Linked DNA regions of Homo sapiens: region 2 is linked to region 1. The links come from fine-mapping of genetic effects on gene expression. A gene starts in region 1. The other region holds a variant in brackets. All regions are shown on one strand. Distances are between the middles of the regions.

The links.
Region 2: its variant is fine-mapped to the expression of MASP1 in fibroblasts (GTEx, PIP 0.92).

The regions. Positions count from the first base shown.
Region 1 is chr3:187,290,401-187,293,372 of GRCh38, reverse strand. MASP1 (MBL associated serine protease 1) reads left to right here and starts at 1,636. Exons shown (of 11, transcript NM_139125.4): 1 at 1,636-1,745. The coding sequence starts at 1,741. LOC101929130 (a long non-coding RNA gene) reads right to left here and starts at 2,101. Exons shown (of 2, transcript NR_135551.1): 1 at 1,837-2,101.
Region 2 is chr3:187,260,541-187,263,040 of GRCh38, reverse strand. MASP1 (MBL associated serine protease 1) reads left to right here. Exons shown (of 11, transcript NM_139125.4): 3 at 321-498; 4 at 2,169-2,300. Among named protein-coding and RNA genes, the nearest start is that of MASP1, 30 kb to the left of the region's middle. The variant A/G (reference allele first, on the strand shown) is at 1,246.

The DNA of each region.
Region 1 (2,972 bases):
TCTGCCGCTTTGGTGAGTGTGGCTGGCAGCCCTCTCTCTGGTACTCCCCTGGACACTTCTACAAGCACAGTCTTATTTAAGCCTCATAGTAACTCCCATTTTCCAAATGAAGACACAGAATCAGATACCTTAAGTATTGTGCCCAAAGTACACAGCTGTCTTGGGTAGAAAGGAAAGATTACAGCTAAACTCTGAGTCTAATCTTCTTTTCAAAATGACTCAGATTGAGTTTCTCTATGAATGCCGTCTGTGTGTGTGCATTTGAAATTCCATATGCATTATAAAATGTTAATGAGTAGCAGTGTAATACAGTGGCTAACACTTCAAATTCTGCCTCTATTACTTTCTAGCTGTGTGAACTTGGGAAAGTTACTTAACCTCTCTGGGCAATTTCCTCTGAAAAATGAGAATATTGCCAGCCATGTATACAACATATAAAGATGACTGAAAAGAATTCATATATTAAGTGCTTAGAGCAGTGCCTGACACGTAGCACTCAATAGCTGTTAGCTTCTAGTGCTAGTGGCAGTGGGGAGTCATAAATAACTGGATGATCTTGGCAAGTGGCATATTCTCTCTGAGCCTTAGTGTCCTCACTTGTAAAATGAGTATAACAGCAGCACTTTCACCAGTTTGCAAAAGTAACTTGAGATGATGTTAATGACTAGTACTGTGTCTAACACAGAAAAGGTGCACAGTCAAACTTAACTTTTACACCCAGATACACCTCTCCCTATTCAGTGTTGGTTGTTGTTGTTGTGGAGGGGGTAATTTTCTTATTATTCAGCTCATCTTAGATCTAGTGTTGATTTCTCCGGAAGCCATGGGTATAGACATATATACAGGCCCAGGTCTTTCTACACCCCTGGGGAGGTGAGATTTCTTGCTGCGATGGGCCCTTTCTGGGCTGGAGTAGAGCCGCACACACTCCGAGCAAGTAAACAGTGCCACAGGTATTGCTCATGGGGAGGAACAACCAGCCAACTTCAGGACTTGGTGCTTCCCCAGTTCCGGGCCCGTGGCTCTGTTCACAGGAAAACCTGTCGTTGTGTGTGACTCTGATCACGAGAAAACCTGTAGTTATTTGGGGCTCTGCTCACAAGGAAACCTGTAGTTATTTGCAGACAGACGCTCTGGGATTTAGACCTTTTTTTTTTCTTCTAGTGTAGGTGCTAGAATTGCCTTCTTAGTTGGTTGTTTCTATTTAATTGCTTTTCTTTCATGGGTGTCCTGAAGAAAAGCAGAAAATTATAGTCATCTGGCAAAAAAGACTAAAGAGAAATTAGACTTTGTCCCCTTTCACTCTCTCTCTCTCTCTCTCTCTACACACACACACACACACACACACACACACACAGAGTGATACAAATACCTGCTTGAGCCCCTCAGTTATTTTCTCTCAAGGGCTGAAGTCAGCCACACAGGATAAAGGAGGGAAGGGAAGGAGCAGATCTTTTCGGTAGGAAGACAGATTTTGTTGTCAGGTTCCTGGGAGTGCAAGAGCAAGTCAAAGGAGAGAGAGAGGAGAGAGGAAAAGCCAGAGGGAGAGAGGGGGAGAGGGGATCTGTTGCAGGCAGGGGAAGGCGTGACCTGAATGGAGAATGCCAGCCAATTCCAGAGACACACAGGGACCTCAGAACAAAGATAAGGCATCACGGACACCACACCGGGCACGAGCTCACAGGCAAGTCAAGCTGGGAGGACCAAGGCCGGGCAGCCGGGAGCACCCAAGGCAGGAAAATGAGGTACGTGCCAGGGGAGGAGAGGGCACGGTTCCCTTTTGGGGACCAGTGTCAAATAGCAGGGAAGGTCTGACCTTGTCACTGACAGACTCACCTGCGTGTCCTGCATGTGGTAGTGAGGGGCTTTCTCATCAATTCTTAGGGCTCTGAGAAGGGAGCTGTGGGTGGGCTGGGTGCCTTCCCCAGGACTCCAGGAGACATAAAACTTGAAACGGGAGACTTCGTGCAAATCCTGCTCCGGACGCTGCTGAAGCTCAGATTTCTCCCACTGCCTGCACAGGGTGCTGCCTGCTGGCGAATGTGACTCTCCTCCTGTTCACCCACAAGGCTGATTTTTCCGTGTTCCTCCTCTGGAAAGAGCATTGCTTTCTCTCTTCCAGCACTTTGTGAGTTAGATATGTGTTTGTGTGTTCATTCCTTCTGACCAGAAAAGAAACCAGCTTCCCATAGCTTGGCTCTGTGGTTTCTTCAACCTTTACAAGTTTGCCAGTTAAACCTCAATTTAGAAAACTAAAAATCTGTCCCCATTTTACAGTTCCCTATAAATTTTCTGCATTTCTCATTGAAATCAGAGGCAGCTGGTGGCATGAATCAGGCTATGAAGTACACCAAATGGCTCTTAAAGAGATATCATACTTAAAAAAAAAAAAAGGATTTTAGAGTTCTGAAATCAAGAACTTCAAATTCTAATTGGTTTTAAACTCTTTAACCTTTCTTATTCCTCATTATACTTGACACTCCTTACCAGACCTTTCATACAAGTTCTATCCTGCAAGTCTGAAAACCCAACCACCCTAGTTATTTTTATTAGTTAAGTGTTAATGCTGTTACACACACACACACACACACACACACACACAATGCTCTGCAGATGTGTAAGTCCCTAAACACATCTTTTACTATTAATTTTCTTTTCACTTGGGAAAGTGTTTTTATTTGTTTCTCTTCTGCAAAGTAACCTAGCAACTTTTCTGGACCTGAGACCAATGAGAGGCTTCAGACTATGTTAACTCTTTGAACTCCGATTACCTGTGGTTCAGAGAGATAACCAGGTCCTTAAAAAGTGAGTGCAATAATTCTGTTCTTCTTAAAGCCATAGTAATTTTAAACCTGCCATTAAACATCATTTTTCTTTCTCCAAAAAAAAGTGATTTATGTCAATCTACATTGAATGATAATCTCATTTATCTGTCAATGATCTGGTCTGAATCCCACCCTACCATTCAGTGC
Region 2 (2,500 bases), 30 kb after region 1:
CTGTCTGCGAGGTTATCTAACTTTTTAAAACTTTCATATTGAGTTATTTTTAATAAATAAGCTGCTTGGTTATTGACAGCAACAACAAATATCAAGCTACTTCTAATGGAACTAAATAAGACGAATGAAACTGATCAGATGTCCACATTGAATTAACTTGTAATGCGTCTTTTCTCAAGAATCCTTAACCTCCTTTCTTTGGGTTTCTCAGGCTGACTAGCCTACTCTTGGGTGGCCCCTTCCTTTTTCTTTCTAAAGATAAGGAAAGAAGCCTAGCTGGGAAACTGCTCATCTTGTTCCCTTTCTCTTTGACCTCAAAGGTAGAAACTGAGGACCAGGTGCTGGCAACCTTCTGTGGCAGGGAGACCACAGACACAGAGCAGACTCCCGGCCAGGAGGTGGTCCTCTCCCCTGGCTCCTTCATGTCCATCACTTTCCGGTCAGATTTCTCCAATGAGGAGCGTTTCACAGGCTTTGATGCCCACTACATGGCTGTGGGTAAGTTGGAGAAGTGACTCATCCTCAGGTCTCTCTCTCTCTCTCCGAAGATGAAAACTGCCTTGTGACCTCTCCTTTACGATGGAAATCTGTGTGTGCACCACATAGATTTTACCATTAATGTCTTAATGCATTTGCTCTATCACGTATCTATCCATCTATCTACCCTCTATCCATCCAGCAATTCATCTTTTACAAAGTGTTTTAACGTAAATTGCAGACATCAGTATACTTCTTCCTAAATAATTCAGCATGCATATTATTTTGCTAGAGTTTCATATTTGTTCACAGCATTTTTTCTTTTTGTGTAAAATTGACATAAAATGGAATATACATATCTCATGTATACATTTGTTGAATTTTGAAAAATCTGTATTTGTGTGTAACCCAAACCTCTAACAAGACACTGAACTTTACCACCAGCCCAGGGGGTTCCTTTGTGTCCCTGCCAGTCAATCTCTGCTCCCACTTCCCTTAGAGGAAACAACTGTTTTGATTTTTTTTCTGCTGTAGATTAGTTCTTGCCTCTTCTAAAACTTCATTTAAATGAAAACATACAGAATACATTTTGGGGGTGAGGATTCTTTTACTCAGCATAATGTTTTTGAAGTTAATTCATGTGTCGCATGCATCAGTAATTTGCTCCTTTTCCTGGCAGAGTAATTTTCCATTGTATGAATATACTAAAGTATGTTTACTCATTCTCTTATTGACGGCTACTTGGAATCTCCCCATTTTTTAGCTCTC[A/G]CTAACAAAGTTTTTATGAACCTTCTTGTGCAAGTCTTCTTGCAAACATATGTTTTCAATTCTATTGAGTAAATATGTAAGAGAAGAATTGCTGAGTCATAGGATAGGTATACGTTTAGCTTTATGAGACATTGCCAGACCTTTTCCAAAGCAAATGTAACATTTTTTATCTGTCCACCAATGTATGAGAGTTCTGGCTGCTCCACATCTAAACCAACATTAGATGTTGTCAATTTTTAAAAATTTTAATCACTCTGGTGAGTATGTAGTGGTACCTCATTGTGGTTTAAACTGCATTCCCTTAATGACTAGCAATGTTGAACATCTTTTCATGTGCTTGTTGGCCATTGGTTTATCCCTTTTGGGGAAATGTACATTCAAATGCCTAGGACAGGGCTTGACCCACATTAGGGGCAGAAAGAAAGAAAGAGGTAGCATGAGGTAGAAGTTAAGAGCACAAGCTCTGTACCCAGCTTGTCTGTATTTAAATCCTGGGTCTGCCACTTATTATCTGTGTGATTCTAAGTTTGTTAATGCCTCTATGTCGCCATTTCATCCTCCATAGAATGTGACTAGTAACAGAATGCATAGTAACAAATGTGTAATTCTTCCTGAGGTTGTTGTCCCACACACAGTTATTATTATAACTGTTAGAGGATAGTGGTCCCACCAGAAGTCAAGTTACCTGGGTTTGAACTTGGCTTTTTGTGACCTTGGGTAAGTTGCCTAACCTCTCTGAGTTCCAGTTTCCTAGTCTGTAAAGTGAAGATAATGGCTACCTCTGGGCTGTATGAGAGGATTAAATGAGAGAACGCATGAATCTCCTAACATAGTGAGTGGCCCATATCAAGTGCTCTATAAATGTTGGCTGTAGTCTTCATCATCATGCATGTATTGATGGAGAGGCTTTACCTGCCCTACAGATGTGGACGAGTGCAAGGAGAGGGAGGACGAGGAGCTGTCCTGTGACCACTACTGCCACAACTACATTGGCGGCTACTACTGCTCCTGCCGCTTCGGCTACATCCTCCACACAGACAACAGGACCTGCCGAGGTAGAGCCTACCAATGATTGTATGCATTGCCCTTATAGGCCACATCCTCAATAACATTAGATGAGGCTCAGAGAAAGACAGATATGCAATAGGAACAAGTAAAAATGAAGTCAATGATGCACCTCAGACACCACATGGATGAAGATGCAGAAATGCCCACCCAGCCTGGAAACCTGATCTTGGGTTCCCAAAGGAGAGAA